Regions from separate parts of the Homo sapiens genome. Here region 2 is linked to region 1. A link means that fine-mapping ties the variant in region 1 to the expression of a gene that starts in the linked region. Tissue or cell type: whole blood. Region 1 holds a variant in brackets; the other region holds the start of a gene. All regions are shown on one strand. Distances are from middle to middle.

Region 1 (8,108 bases):
AACTTTTGTCTGACATGAATCTAAACGTATTATATTTCTGTGACATTTTACACTAATTATTGCTCTTTCTAAAAATACCCAGGCCTTTACTTTTTAGCCAATTTTTTTGTTGTTGTTGTTTCTAAAACAGAAGGTGAACTGGGTCAATTCAGGTATTAATTTTAGCTATGCCATATCAACTTCTGGACACAAGCAGCTAAAGAGAAACTGGAATGGGAAGAAAATTCCATTCCTGCCCTGTTTCCTGGTTAGGAAGGAGCAGACTTTAGAGAAGGAAGGCCAAGCATGGTTTGTAACAGGCTGAAAACATGCCCTTGAAAGCTGAGGCCTCAAGTGTGCCTGTGAAATGGTAAACAAACCCGGTAATGGTAAATGAGCCATGGCTTTGGCTTATTTGCAATAAGGAACAAATCAATTGAAGTATTTCATATTCCTCTCAGAAGAGAACCATAAAGAGCCATGAGACTTCCCAAACAATTGGGATAAATGGGAGAATTTAATAAATAGAATGAAACAAACAGAAGGAAATAAAAAAATGAGCAAAATGCTTTTTAAAAAGCTAAAAACATTTTAGAAAGTGTGAGAATAATAATTACTAAACCCACATGTCTGTAACAAATGAATTGCAATGAAAGGCCAGAGTACAAATAAGAATTATTCATTAACTTGCACTGTAGCATCTGCTACTTGTTATTTCAGCAAATGAATTGTGCAGTAATGACAGTGAATTCTAAACTTGAATATCTAATAATTGAACAGTCATTCCTGCTTCCTACTTGCAAGAAAAAAAAAAGGAACTAAAAGAAAGGAAGAAAAAATAAAAGTTACTTAAAAATATGTTAAACTGATGCCAAGACTGGTCATATAATTCAATATACCATTCGAACTGGGCAGCAGGCTTCCCACTGACCCAGCTGCTGAGTACAGAGGTTTTTATGGTAACAGGTGAGCTCTAACATGGCAGCCCAATATTTTACACCCTTGCTGCATTTTCTGATAATGGACTCACACTCTTATTCCTTTTCCATAAACAAAGCATTCTGTTGCCTGTTCATCCCACTCTCCACCCAAGGAGTACCACATCACAATGGAAACCATTCTCCAGGCAATGGGTTTCAGCTATTAATCACTGGGATGTCAAATGAGAAAATATGTGATTGGTTAAGCTTAGAACAAGGTCAGGAATGAAGAATAATAAATTTGAAAGCAGACATTGTTTAACAATTGCTATGGGAAATGGATTCTGGATTACACATACAATTTTAAAATAACTTCAGGTCTCCTGAGCTAGATTTTTTTTTTAATGATAGCACTCAGTGCCAGTGAAGAGCATTTATATTTTGTGACTGCACAGCATATTTTGAACATACTTCCAATATCTGGGGAATGTCCTACCTGTGAGCCTACCTCCCCAAAGTAGAAGGCTGGAACTTGCTCTCCTGGGCTCCTTTGGAGCAAGGGCCCACGCATGTGACAAACCACCAACCAACCATCAGAACATCTATGAGAAGCTACAATTTGAAATAAAGTAATGGGAAAAGTAAGGCATCTCAAGGAACATATTCTGCAAGGGAAGAGGCGTAAGGCAAAATACAACCAGTGGAGGTGGTAAGGACACACGTCCAGGGGAGTGTCCCAGTAATAGTGGTGACTGTTCCCAATGGAAACTGCATTATTCCTGGTTAGACAGCTTCCAAGCCTGATTCCCTACTCCATCCAGACTTTTAAATACCTAATATCCTTTTAAAAAAAATTCTTCTTCTGTTTAACTAGAGTAAGTTTTGTTTCAAGCATTCAATGTGTATTTATTGAGTGCCTACTACGTTCCAGGAACTGGTTTTTAACAATGAATAAAACAAAAAATGATTCTTGTCCTAATGAAGCTTACACTCTGGTGGGGACACAAATGAGAAACAAAATAAACAAATGTGTGATAATGCTATGTGCATTATGATAGGCACTATATGGCAATAAGTACTATAGAGAAAAATCAAGCAGGAAAAAAGAAATGTCAGTGTGGAAGTGGGTGTAGTATATTTAAATAGGGAGGTGAGGAGAGGACTCACCAAGGTGACATTTGAATAAAGATCTGAAGGAGGTAAAGGAATGAGTCAAATTGATATCTAAGACAACATTCTAGGTAGGAGGAGTACTTTTGTACTTGGCAAATTCAAAAAAGAGCAAAAAGCCAGTGTGGCTGGAACACAGCAAATGAGGGAATAAGTAGTAGGAGATGAGGAACAAGAAGTGTGATCAAGAGGCGTTTGTTGGTCACTGCAAGAGCTCTGAGAGTAGAAGCCACAGAAGGGTTTTGTGCAAAGGAGACATATTCTGATGTATGATTTAACAGAATTATTGTGGTTGCTGTATCAAGACAAATTGGGGAGAGGCAGGCAAAAGCAGAAGAGAAAAGTGAGGAAGCTACTGGAATAATCGAGGTAAGACATGAAGGTTGTTTATTCACAGTGATAATTGAGCTGGGTGAAGAGAGAATCTGATTGTGGATATATGTTAGATTTGTTTGTTTGTTTGTTTGTTTTTTGTTTCTGTTTTTTTGAGATGGGGTCTCACCATGTTTCCCTACCTGGTCTTGAACTCCTGGGTTCAAGCAGTCCTCCTTCCTTAGCCTCCTAAGTAACTGGGATTACATGTGTGCAAACTGTGCCTGGGTATTTCTGAATATATTTTGAAGGTATAACTGACACAATTTGTTCATGGATTGTTTTGGGGACATTCTGATGACCTAATGCTTCTGACAACTAGAATTAGCATATATGATTTAATGTGGTTTCTAAGAATCAAAAGCCAGAAATATGTACTAAAACATTATTAGTGGTGCTATAAACCCCCAACATTGATATATTGATATAGAGCTTTAGAGTCAACACTATCTGATGCATGTAATAAAATATATCATCATTACCATGCCAAATTCATTTTTTAAAGTATTTATTTTCAGCACTATGTGCAAGACATAGTAATCTAGTAATATCGCCAAACATTTTAAATAGCACTAGAGTTTATAAAACACTTTAACATCCATCCTTGAACACAGCCAGATTCTGTAACTCACAAAGTGCTACATCACAACTATACTCTGAAGCAGGATTCCACCATCACCTAAGTTTCACTTTCTTAGTTATAAAATACTTTCTACATATGTTTCTTGAACACTAAGCCCATATGCTATGGACTGAGTAGGCCCCCACAAAATTCCTATGTTGAAGCCCTAACCTCTAGTATGTCTGTATTTGGAGAAAGGGCCTTTAGGAGGTAATTAAGGTTAAATGAAGTCAAAATGGCACTGTATTAGTCCATTTTCATGCTGCTGATAAAAGACGTACCCAAGACTGGGTAACTTATATAGGTAAAAGAGTTTAATGGACTTACAGTTCCATGTGGCTGGGGAGGCCTCACTATCATTGCAAAAGGCAAGGAGGAGCAAGTTCCATCTTACGTGGATGGCAGCAGGCAAAAAGAGAGCCTGTGCAGGGAAACTCCCGTTTTTTAAAACCATCAGATCTTATGAGACTTATTATCACAAGAACAGCACAGAAAAGACCCACCCCCATGATTCAAATATCTCCCACTGGGTTCCTCACACAACACATGGGAATTATGGGAGCTACAAGATGAGATTTGGGTGGGGACACAGAGCCAAACCATACCATTCCGCCTGGGCCCCTCCCAAATCTCATGTCTTCACACTTCAAAACCAATCATGCCTTTCCAGCAGTACCCCCAAAGTCTTAACTCATTACACCATTAACTCAAAAGTCCACAGTCCAACATCTCATCTGAGACAAGGAAAGTCCCTTCTGTCTATGAGCCTGTAAAATCAAAACCAAGTTAGTTACTTCCTAGATACAATGGGGGTACAGGCATTGGTAAATACAGCTGTTCCAAATGGGGAAATTAGCCAAAACAAAGGGGCTACAGGCCCCCCACACAAATCCAAAATCCAGCAGGGCACTCAAATCTTAAAGCTCCAAAATGATCTCCTTTGACTTCATGCCTTGCATCGGGTCACAATGATGCAAGAGGTGGGTTCCCATGGTCTTGGGCAGCTCTGCCCCTGTGGCTTTGCAGGTTACCGCCTCCCTCCTGGCTGCTTTCACGGGCTGGTTTTAAGTGTCTGCAGCTTTTCCAGGTGCAGGGTGCAAGCTGTCAGTGGACCTGCCATTCTGGGGTCTGGAGGATGGTGGCCCTCTTCTCACAGCTCCACTAGGCAGTGCCCCAGTAGGGACTCTGTGTGGGGGCTCCAACCCCATATTTCCCTTCCACACTGACCTAACAGAGGTTCTCTATGAGGGGTCCACCCCTGCAGCACACTTCTGCCTGGGCATCCAGGTGTTTCCATACATCTTCTGAAATCTAGGCAGAGGTTCCCAAACCCCCATTCCTGACTTCTGTGCACTCACAGGCTGAATACAACGTGGAAGCTGCCAAGGCTTTGGGCTTGCACCAACTGAAGCCAAGGTCCAAGATCTATGTTGGCCCCTTTCAGCCATGGCTGAGGCAGTTGGGAGGCAGGGCACCAAGTCCCCAGGCTACACACAGCACAAGGACCTTGGGCCTGGCCCACGAAACCACTTTTTCCTCCTAGGCCTGTGATGGGAGGGGCTACTGCAAAGGTCTCTGACATGCCCTGGAGACATTTTCCCCATTGTCTTGGTGATTAACATACGGTTCCTCATTACTTATGCAAATTTCTGCAGCC[A/G]ACTTGAATTTCTCCTCAGAAAATAAGATTTTCTTTTCTATTGCATTGTCAGGCTGCAAATTTTCCAAAGTTTTATGCTCTGTTTTCCTTTTGAAACAGAATGCCTTTCAACAGCACCCAAGTCACCTCTTGAATGCTTTGGTGCTTAGAAATTTCTTCCACAAGATACCCTAAATCATGTCTCTCAAGTTCAAAGTTCCACAAATCTCTAGGGCAGGGGCAAAATGCTGCCAGTCTCTTTGCTAAAACATAACAAGAATCACCTTTGCTCCAGTTCCCAACAAGCTCCTCATCTCCATCCGAGACCACCTCAGCCTGGATTTCATTGTCCATAGCATTATCAGCATTTTGGTCAAAGCCACTGAACAAGTCTCAAGGGAATTCCAAACTTTCCCACATTTTCCTGTCTTCTGAGCCCTCCAAACAGTTCCAGCCTCTGCCTGTTACCCAGTTCCAAAGTCTCTTCCACATTTTTGGGTATATTTTCAACAACACCCCACTCTACTGGTACCAATTTACTGTATTAGTCTGTTTTCATGCAGCTGATAAAGACATACCCAAGAGTGGATAATTTATACAGAAAAAAGGGTTTAATGGACTTACAGCTACACATGGCTGGGGAGGCTTCACTCTCATGGCAAAAAGCGAGGAGGAGCAAGTCATATCTTACATGGATGGCAGCAGGCAAAGAGAGAGCTTGTGCAGGGAAACTCATTCTTTAAAACCATCAGATCTAGTGAGACTTATTCACTATCATAAGACCAGCACAGGAAAGAGCCACCCCTATGATTCAAATGACTCCCACCATGTTCCTCCCATAACACGTGGGAATTATGGGAGATACAAGATGAGATTTGGGTGGGGACGCACACCCATATTAGGCACCCTAATCCAATAGGACTAGTGGCCTTTTAAGAGGAAGACAGAGAGATATCTATTTATCTCTGCATACACACACACTGAGGAAAGGCCATGTGAGTGCACGGTGAGATGGTAACTCCCAACAAACCAAGGGAAGAGGCCTCAGAATGAAACCTATCTTGCTGGCACCTTGAACTTAGACTTCCTAGGTTCCAGAACTCTGGGAAAATACATTTTGGTTGTTAAACCATCCAGTCTGTGGCATTTTGTTATGGCAGCCCATGATGACCAATACACCACATTACAGAAGGAAAAGGTGGTCTTGATGTTGGCCAATTACATATACACACAAAATTCCAAGAATGTTCATTCACAATTTCATTCTCAGGCCATATAATCCAAACTACACAAGGTCCACAAATCCACAAGCCAATGAGCCTAGAATCACTCTTTTGATCTCTTCAACTTATCCCTAAGTTCCATTCACAGACACAGGGTGTTTGTCCTAGACTCTGGGGGAGCACTGTGAAATGACACCATGGTTACCAGAGAATCTCCAACAATCCCCTTCATACCCTCAATATTTGTACCGTCCAGTATCTTAGCTACTAGCCGTATGTACCTATGGAATATGTACATAAATATTTGATATATAGCTAGTCTAATATGATATAAGAATACCATACCAAATTTCAAAGACTTAGTATGAAAAAATGTGAAATATGTTAACTTTTATGTTAATTATTGCTGAAATATATTGTTGATATATTGGGTTTAATAAAATATATTATAAAAATTAACTTCACCTTTTTACTGTTTTTAATGTGGCTAATAGAAAATTTAAAATTACATATATGGCTCACATTAGTACCTTGCATTATATTTCTATTGGACAGTGCTAATTCACACACACACACACACACACACACACACACACACACACACAGTCTCTTAGTTCTTTTGATATACAGTACTCACTCCTTCCTTGAAGTCCCTGCTCCAGCTCTTCTTGAGTCTTGTCTCCAAAGGATGTTGTCAGTATTTCTCTACTCAGACTGGTTCTGCTATTCATAGCAGTCAGGTTTCAGAACATGAGTGTGCATGAGGCAGAGGGGAAAAGTTGTCATGGGGGTCTGCCCCCCATGTAAATATCTGATGCAATTAGATATTTTTCCTCATTACACTGATGCTTTTTCTGCTTTACTATCTTAGGCAATATCAAAACCCATCCTTTATTTATTTATATTTTTTAAATTGAGACAAGGTCTCACTCTGTCACCCAAGCTGAGTGCAGTGGTGCAATCACAGCTCAGTGCAGCCTTGACCTCCCAGGCTCAAGCAACCTTCCCACTTCAGCCTCCCCCAGTAGCTGGGACTATAGGCACATGCCACCATGCCCAACTAATTATTTATTTATTTTTGTACAGAACAGGGTCTTGCTATGTTGCACAGGCAGGTCTCAAACTCCTGGACTCAAGTACTCCTCCCACCTCAGACTCCCAAAGTGCTGGGATTACAGTTGTGAGACAACTGGGATTACAGTTGTGATTACAGTTGTGTTCTGGCCAAAAACACACCCTTCTATTAAGATAGCCTTGAGAGATTCAACATTCTAGAAAATGGAAGAGAGTGGTAGGGGAGAGAACCTTCCACCACACAAAATTATTTTCATTCAATATTACTCTCCAAATTTTACAAGAGGAAACAGATGTTCAGAGTGGTTAAATTTGTTACCCAAGGTCACAGAGCTGTATGTAATTAATACTGAAGTCTGGTATCTGATCTTTATTCATTCCTGTTATCATTATATCACAATATCATGTGTCTCCAAAATTTAAATTTTGACAATTCAAAATTTTAGACTATCTGGGAGGGAACAAGACAGGGGGTGGTCATCATTACAAACATCAATTACCAGAAAGTATCTGAAGAATAGTTATTTTCTAATCCTTTGGAATATAAATATGTGGGAAATTATGTTAACTACTCAATTTATTCAATAAAGCAATTCACAGAATTGTTCTAATTATAGATTGTATTAGTCTGTTCTCATGTTGCTATATAAAGACATACCCAAGACTGGTAATTTATAAAGAAAAGACATTTAATTGACTCACAGTTCAGCATGGCTGGGGAAGTCTCAGGAAACTCACAATCATGTCAGAAGGGGAAGTAAATACACCCTTCTTCACATGGAGGCAGCAAGGAGAAGTGCAGAGTGAAGGGGAGGAAAGCCCCTTATAAAACCATCAGGTCTCATGAGAACTCACTATCATGAGAACAGCATGGAGGTCAATTACCTTCTACCAGATCCCTCCATGATACATGTGGATTATGGGTGCTACAATTCAAGATGAGATTTGGGTGGGGAAGCAACCAAACTATATCATTCCAACCGTGGCCCCTCCCAAATTTCATGTCCTCACATTTCAAAACACAATCATGCCTTCCCAACAGACCCCCAAAGCCTTAACTCACTCCAGCATGAATTCAAAAGACCAAGTCTTAAGTCTCATCTGAGACAAGG
Region 2 (8,108 bases), 39 kb after region 1:
GAAAAAAATTACATGAACTTATTCTACCGTTTTAATAGCTTCACTTCATATATATGCCCAACTGAATTTCTTATAATCAATTTATAAAATTGAATTTTATAAAGCAGGACCTTCCTGTCAAGTAATAAGTAAAAATGAAAAAAACATGAACTTATCTCATTCCCACACATCAATTTTTCCTTGGATTTTCAATGTGTTAGTTTCACAAAGCACAAGATATAAAATATTCCTCTGATAATGTTATTAGGTTGTTAGTACCTGAAGGCTGGAACTTGTATTTTATTTGTCCCTAAACCCTTTACAGGTTAATAAGTCTTACACCTAAAAGGCACTCCATATAAACTGACTCAACAATTGAATATCAAAGGCAGCAATATGTATAATACATACCCAAGAAGAGGCAGAACAAACAGAGCAGAGCAGTAAACTGTGAACAAGCGAGAAAGCCACATTGCCGTGTCCAGTTTATTGGTCATCATGAATTGCTAAATTTAAAAAGAAAAATACTGTAAGCTATGCCTGCAAATCATGTTTTTAAGCATCAAGACTGTGTGGTTTTTATGTCTACTCAAAATATTTTAATCTTCCTCCATTTGTTTTTTTAGATCATTAGGTGAAAACTCTAAGGCAATTACATGTTTCATGTATATGCTTAATGAGAAGTCCAAACACCTTATAGTTTTCATGTGGAAAGCACAAGAAGTACTTAAACAGAAATAAATAGAAAAATATCAGCTGACATTTTAAAAAAATGCAAAGACTAATTAATTAGAAAAAATAATCTTAACAGAAATTCAACTACAATTGTCTGTGTTCCTTTAACACTTGCAATATTGGCTTCATCTATTTTAAAAGAACATTAAACAAAAACTAATTGCTCTCAAGAGATCCATATGCCTATTCTTAGCAAAAAATCTCAAATCCGAATAGGTAGGTCTCAGAGCTGAGTAAAACATCACATAAAGCCAGTTGGGATTAAAGAAACCTTTTGAAGAAGAAATATAAAACCATGATAGTAGTAACAACTAAACTCATTCGCCTTGTAATCTGCCTACATGCACAAGGGCCTGGCATACTCTAGGTGCTCAAAATGTGGCTGACAGGTATTAAATGGCCACCTGCCTCTCTGATTACACCACTCTCTTTATCACCTCCATGTTCCCCCACAAGTCTTACCCTAGTTTCGGTGGTCCTAGATTAAACTTTCCTATACCATTTTCTTCCCCCATTTTTTTCCCATTCTATCTTTCCTTTGCTGCTTTCCCCCCAATACTTATGTCTATTACCACTAAAGCAGAATCTTAAAATGTGTTTTCTCATTAAAATGTATCTTATATTCAAAAGTGGCTTTTACATTTTTTGTCTAGGATCTTCGTAATTTTAACATTGAGATCCATATACATGGATATATAAACAAAAGTTTCACAAATATTTACCCTACTGTATATAATGGATTTTGACATTTTCTATTTAATTTTTTAAAAATAGCTGGTGTTTACACTAAACTGACTTCTCAACTCACTAATGGGTCTACCTGAAGTCTAAAAACACTGCTCTATGTAATTTAATTTCATTATCTTTTGAAAAAAAAATATAAAAAATTTGAGGGAAAAATCCAAGTACATTGTAAAATTCCAGGCTGTTTTATTTTATGTCTTTTTAACCCACATGTAGGTAATTTCAGAAATATGAAATACAACTTTGATTTATCATTAAATCCAGACTTACCGTACTGTGACTCCAATAAACTGAAATGATTAGCAGTAATCAAGTGAAGGATGAATCCAGCTTACTGTGCTCAGTTTCTCAACAAATATTATGACTGGGCACCACAGCTTGAAAGTTAGTTTTAGAACATTCTCCTTAAAATCTATTTGTTCAGGTTGTTTATTCTGCAATAAATCATTGAGCTATGCGTTTCATTTTGTACACACTTATGTATATTATACAATTTTAAAAGTTTAAGAAAGTCTATTGGTATACATTTTTTAAGAGTAAACTGTCCAACCATCAGGCAAAAAAAAAAAAAAATCACTAGATCTTTGGGTGAAAAATTGTTGAGGAGCAATATTCACACAGTGTCACAGTATCATGCCAAAGAACACTTTTTAATTAGAAAGGAAAAAAGGTATCTTTACAATGGAGAAACTGGTGGACACCACCTTAATCAAATAATCAAACAAATTCTGCAATGATGGGATAAATCAATGTAAAATGCTTCCTGATATATAATATAGATATACATATTAGATGTACCTATATATGCTGCAAAACATGTCTGGACTCTTGAAAACTATCAGTATCTTAAAAGACAAAAAAGGGGAGGAGAGGGCAGAACTGTTCTAGATTAAAAGGCAGTAAACAAGATATGGCCAGTAAATTGAATGCATGCTTTCTGAGATAGGGTCTCGCTCTGTCACCCCAGGCTGGAGCGCAAAAGCACAACCCACCTCAGCCTCCTGAGTAGCTGGGACTATGCTGGGACTATAGGAGCGCACCTCCACGACCGGCTAATTTATGTTTGTTTGTTTGTTTGTTTGTTTTGAGAGAAGGTTTTGCTCTATCACCCAGGCTGGAGTGCAGTGGCGCGATCTTGGCTCACGGCAGCTTCAACTTCTCGGGCGCAAGCGATCCACCCGCCTTGGCCTCCCAAAGTGCTGAGATTACAGGCGTGAGCCACCACGCCCCGCCTAATTTCTTTGATTTCTAGTAGAGATGAGGTCTCGCTATGTTTCCAAGGCTGGTCTCTAACTCCTGAACTCAAGCGATCCTCCCGCCTTGGACTCCCAAAGTTCTGGGCTTACAGGAGTGAGCCACTGCGCCAGCCCATCGATGCATGCTTTTTGACAGAATCCCAGATGAAGAGAAAGCAGCTTTAAAGGACAATTATGGAAATTTGCACATGGATTTTATATTAGGTAATATTTCCCAAATGTGGTAACTGCATTGTGGTCACACAGAATAATACTTAACTACTTATGGATTAAAAAGTAGAGGACAGCAATGCTCCGGGCACAAATAACTTGTTAGCTCCAGATCAGCATCTTAAAAAAATTACAAAAGCATAATGATATTTCTCTTCATAAAGAACAAAGTGAAGAAGAAAAAGACCACCGCTCTCCTCCCTTTGCATAATTTCTATATACGATTGTATAAACTAGGCAGAAACGTTCTTTGCCGGCACTCGTGTGCTCCACGTGGTGTGTGTCATGGATCATGTGTGTCATGGCACAATCTCATGCGGCATCTTTAACCTTGGGGCCTACGGTAAACAAAAGACCGAGGTGGGAGAAGAGGAAAGAAGGCCCAATTTCCATGGCATACAGGTGGGGGCCACCAGCTCCAGGTCAGCCTATTGTCGCTTCAGAAACAAACTTGTAGTTCCCTCCATATCTTCGCTCAGGACCTCCCCTCTCCCCGCTCCAACTTCCCCACCCCAACTCATTAATCCCATTCCTGAATGCACTGAGCTTCTGGAACGCCTCGGGACTCGCAACGCTTCCTGCTTCTTCCTAACTCTTGCAAATCAAGCCAGACTACCCTGCCCTCGCACTTACCACAGCGCCCGCCCCTTGGGGGCCGTTCGGGGTCGTATCTGCCATGGGGGCTCACACTAGCGTCTGCGACGCCGCAACCGCGAAGAGAGAAGAAAGGGGAGAGAAAACGTCAGCGCTGGGGCCAGGACCCGGGTACCGGCTTCCCTGCCTCGCGCCACACACAGGCCGGATGCACCCTGCCGGAACTCTGAGCCTCCACCAGGGAAGGGTCTCGCTCGCCTGGTGCAGCCGACTGGATCCAGGGCACCCGCAGCAGCCGGGAGGTACCTGTCCCGCACCGCCGAGATCAAAGCGGTGTTTCCAGAAAGACGGGAGCGAAGGTGGAGCTTCGGGGTGAAGCCCTAAAGAGCCAACCTACGCCGCCGGCTCCAGGTTATTGCCGAACCCGGAAGTGCTCCTTTCATTTCCGTGGGGAAGAGGCGGTGACAAAGAGGGGGAAACGGGAGCGGTGCCCAGAGGCATGACGGGAAGTGTGGTTTTTTTCTCCTAATTTGAGCCCCACCTGTCCTTCCGCCGATTGGCCCAGTGAGCTAAGAAATCAGGATGGGGGAGCAACTTTTGCATTAAATACAGCTCACAAATGATCTTTCCTGCCCATTCTCAAACCATGAAATTTCCGCACTTCCTGATATAGAGGCCTCAGAAACATCTTTGATTCCTTTCTCCAGGGGCTTACTAAGCCCGTTGGTTCTACGTCTATTATTAATTCTTTCAATAAGTATTTATGAGGCCTGCTATGTGACAGGCTCCATACTTGGCACGGCGGATAAAAAGAGGAATATGACACAGATTGCAAAAGAGAAACAAGTAAACGGAAATCAGAGCATAGTGATTGTGTAATATGTGTAGAGGCTGATTTAATCACAGGGAGCACAGAGGACGGTACCTAAATCAGAAGGGATCTGGGGAGGTTTCCTGGAAAAGGTAAGTCCGGGCCTTGATCTTGAACGACAAAAAGTTGGCTGAAAGTGTTACTGGTGTAGGGTGTCCAAGTTCTTGGCGTTTTGAACATAGAATTGGACAAAACGCACAAAGCAAGGAAAGAATAAAGCAACAAAAGCAGAGATTTGTTGAAAATGAAAGTACACTCCAGAGTGTGGGAGAGTGAGACAGCAGCTCAAGGGCCCTGGATACAGAGTCTTCTCGGGTCCAAATACCCCCTAGAGGTTTCCCATTGGCCACTTGGAGTTCACTTCATGTAAATGAAGTGGTGGCCCGCAATCAGTCTGAATGGTTGCGCAAAGCAACCAATCAGAGGCTGAAGAAGTTACAAAGTTACACTTCTATGCAAACGTCTGATTGGTTACAAAAAGCAACCAATCAGAGGTACTTTCAATTTCCCAAATCTGCGCAGAACAGGTTGGGGCTTGCAAAGGGAGTAGTATCTGGCCCTTTATTCACTTAAGCGTGGACAGTAAGGATTTTCCTTCAATTTAGTTCTAGGAAGTCAGCGAGAAAGGGCATTAGGTTCCCTACCGCCATACCATATTCTTCTGCCTTAAAACGGGAAGGGAACTCCATACAGAGTAACAGAAAGTGCAAGAAGTAACAGGACAGCGAGAGGACTAGTTGAGTGTGACCAGAATGATGGTACCAGTCAGGGGATTGTGAAAGATTTGCGCTAGAGAGGCAGGCAGGGGTGTACTGAGGAAAGGATCTGAACTTGACCCTGAAATCCAGAGAACCATGGAACAATTTTAATCAGAAGTGTGACATCCTGAGATTTAGAAAGTTCTCTCTGGCAACAGGGTGGAGGATGAACAGAGGGGCAAATTAAAAGTCAGGAAATTCGTTGTGAAGCCATTTATATATATATAAACTAAAAATAAAATCCTAAGTAAGGGGTCTGTCGACTGACTGGATAGATCCCTTTCTTGGCCAAGGGGACCCCAGCCATGATGGGACAGGAGATCAGACATGCCTCATTATACCCCCTCCCTTTTGTAGTTTAGACACAACTGACTAGCAACTACTTAGGCGTGGAAAGTTAGGGTTTTCCTTTCAAATTAGTTCTAGGAAGTCAGCCTATGTTTAACATGTTAATGTTACAATAAAGATCATAACATTGACAGAACAAACTCTTTGTGGGAATAGGATACCAAATTATAAACAGGACCTAAGGCCATGCCAGGCAAGGGTTAAGTCATGCACCCCCTACACTTAAAAAATAAACTATGTTCTACCACAAGAGGTTTTTTTTTTCCCTCTGGCAGCTAAACAACCACTGGCCTAGAGAGAAGCAATATTAAAACAATTACAACTAATCCAGCTCACAGACACTAACTGAACCCCTGCTATACCAACCATAGCTACAGCTTTGATTGCACAAGAGACTGATTTCAGTAACGTTCTCCAGATAAGACCACTGACCATAGGCTGGTTCTGGCCACTTTACAGAGGCCATGCACTTGTGTGCCTTCGTCTCTGCTTCACCTTTTGAGGTACAGAGCCTAACTGTAATACATTAAATATTAAGTCTCCACCCCAAGGTGAACACAGGTTGTATGTAACATGCATGTTGTTCCATACGCATGTATCAGGACTACTTTTATGAATATTCATAGCTCTTCCTGTAACCTGTTGAATATGTATGTTTAGCCAACCTATTCAGCATAAAGCTCCTACCCCAGCTCCTCTTCCTTTAAAGTGCCTGTCTCTGGTCCTTGCTGGAGGCTGTGCTTCCCAGCCCATGAGAGGGCCACCTTGCAGGCTGTATCTCCTTATAAGAAATAAAGTCTCCTTTTCTGAACATATAGATCTTGTGAGTTTTAAGTTAACACATACGTGTAGGAAAGAAGTGATGAGATTCTGGATTGAGGCAGTGTTGTTGGGGAAAAGAAGAGGAAAGATGACTTGGAGGTGGCTTCTAAGATGTGGTGACTAACTAGGTATGGGTGTGTAGGAAGGGGAATGCCATCTGCTGAGACCTGAAGAAGTGTAGAAAAAAATGCATGAGAAGAGCAGTAGATTGAGAATCAAATATGAAGGGGCTAGGGAGAGGGAGTGGACTGGGGACCCACGGGAAAGCTGGCACCCTGTCGGAAAACCATGAGACTGTAATGCTCTTCCTCTGTCAGATGTGTGGTTATCCTCTAGTATCCATGGGCAGACCAGGTGCTAGTCAGATGCAGCCGAGAAATCAAATGGGGTTCTCTTGAAACAGTACAAACCTCTTTTTCTAAGGCCACTGCCCAAGTTCAGGTCCTTCAGATCTCTAGCCTGGATTACTCATCCTCCTAGCTGAGCTAAAATGCCACCTCCTCTGCACTCTTCCCATATCATTTACTCCATATTTTTATAGCAGTTACATTTTTTAACATTTCTTAGAATTATATGTCTCCTTGCCAGTGTGTGTGTTTGTGTGTGTCTATGGCAGTCAACTCAGGCTGTCATAACGAAATACCATAAAGTGGGTAGCATAAGCAACACAAATTTGTTTTCTCACAGTTCTGGAGACTGAGAGGTTTAAGATTAAGGTGCCAACAAGGTAAGTTTCATTTTAGCCGCTGGCAGCTGCCATTTTCTGTGTGCTCAATTTAGGAGGAGGTAAATGATCTCTGTCTTCCTCTCTTCCCCTTCTTATAAGGTCGCCAGTTCTATCGGATTAGGACCCCATCCTTATAACTTAAGTTAGCCTTAATTACTTCCTAAAGATCCTGTTTCCAAATATATACAGTCACATGAGGGTTAGGGTCTTGACATATGAATTTTGAGGGACACAATTCAGTCCATAGCTATATATATTTTATATATATGTATGTAAGTACATATTTTTTTACTGATTTAAAGGATCATCTTATTACAAAAATATTAAAATACAAAATGTTCTCTATTGTAAATTCCATATAGCTAATTAATCTCACAGATACTTCTTTTGATTTTGCTGAACTCTTATATCCATAGCAATATACAGTTGCCATTGATGAATGAGTGTAATTTCATGAATGTTTCTTGATATTTTTGTTAAAGAGTAAAATGAAAGTGAAACAACTAAGACACATATCTTCAACTTTGCATATTAAAATAATTGCAAGTTTACTCTCCTAAGTAGTTGTATTTAGTGTATGAGAATAGCCCTAATCCCTGCCAAAATTTGCTATTTTTAGTTCTTACCAAGATTAGGTATATAAAATGGTATGTCATTTTTTCAATTTGCATTTTCGTGAGTAGTAGTGAGGCTTAGCATCTTTTCACAACTTTATTGGCCATTCAGATTTTCTCTCCTGTTGGCTTTTTTTTTTGAGACACAGTCTTGAGCTGTCGCCCAGGCAGGAGTGCAATGGCGCAGTCTCGACTTGCTGCAGCCTCCACCTCCCAGGTTCAAATGATTATCCTGCCTCAGCCTCCTAAGTAGCTGGGATTACAGGTGCCTGCTACCACGCTGGGCTAATTTTTTGTATTTTTAGTAGAGATGGGGTTTCAGTATGTTGGCCAGGCTGGTCTCAAACTCCAGACCTCGTGATCTACCCGCCTCAGCCTCCCAAAGTGCTGGGATTATAGGCGTGAGCCGCTGTGCCTGGCCTCTGTTGCCTCTTTTCTATTGAGCTGTTT

Evidence for each region. PIP is the estimated chance that this variant, and not a neighbour inherited with it, causes the effect.
Region 2: it holds the start of TMEM33, and the variant in region 1 is fine-mapped to the expression of TMEM33 in whole blood (INTERVAL, PIP 0.95).

What each region holds. Positions count from the first base shown.
Region 1 is chr4:41,969,531-41,977,638 of GRCh38, reverse strand. No RefSeq gene overlaps it. Among named protein-coding and RNA genes, the nearest start is that of DCAF4L1, 8.2 kb to the left of the region's middle. The variant A/G (reference allele first, on the strand shown) is at 4,721.
Region 2 is chr4:41,930,979-41,939,086 of GRCh38, reverse strand. TMEM33 (transmembrane protein 33) reads right to left here and starts at 3,658. Exons shown (of 7, transcript NM_018126.3): 1 at 3,558-3,658; 2 at 391-485. The coding sequence starts at 3,602. It overlaps LOC105374426 (a long non-coding RNA gene), which reads left to right and starts at 4,412. Exons shown (of 3, transcript NR_188374.1): 1 at 4,412-4,481. RefSeq lists enhancers at 3,269-3,338, 3,349-3,398, 3,639-3,818.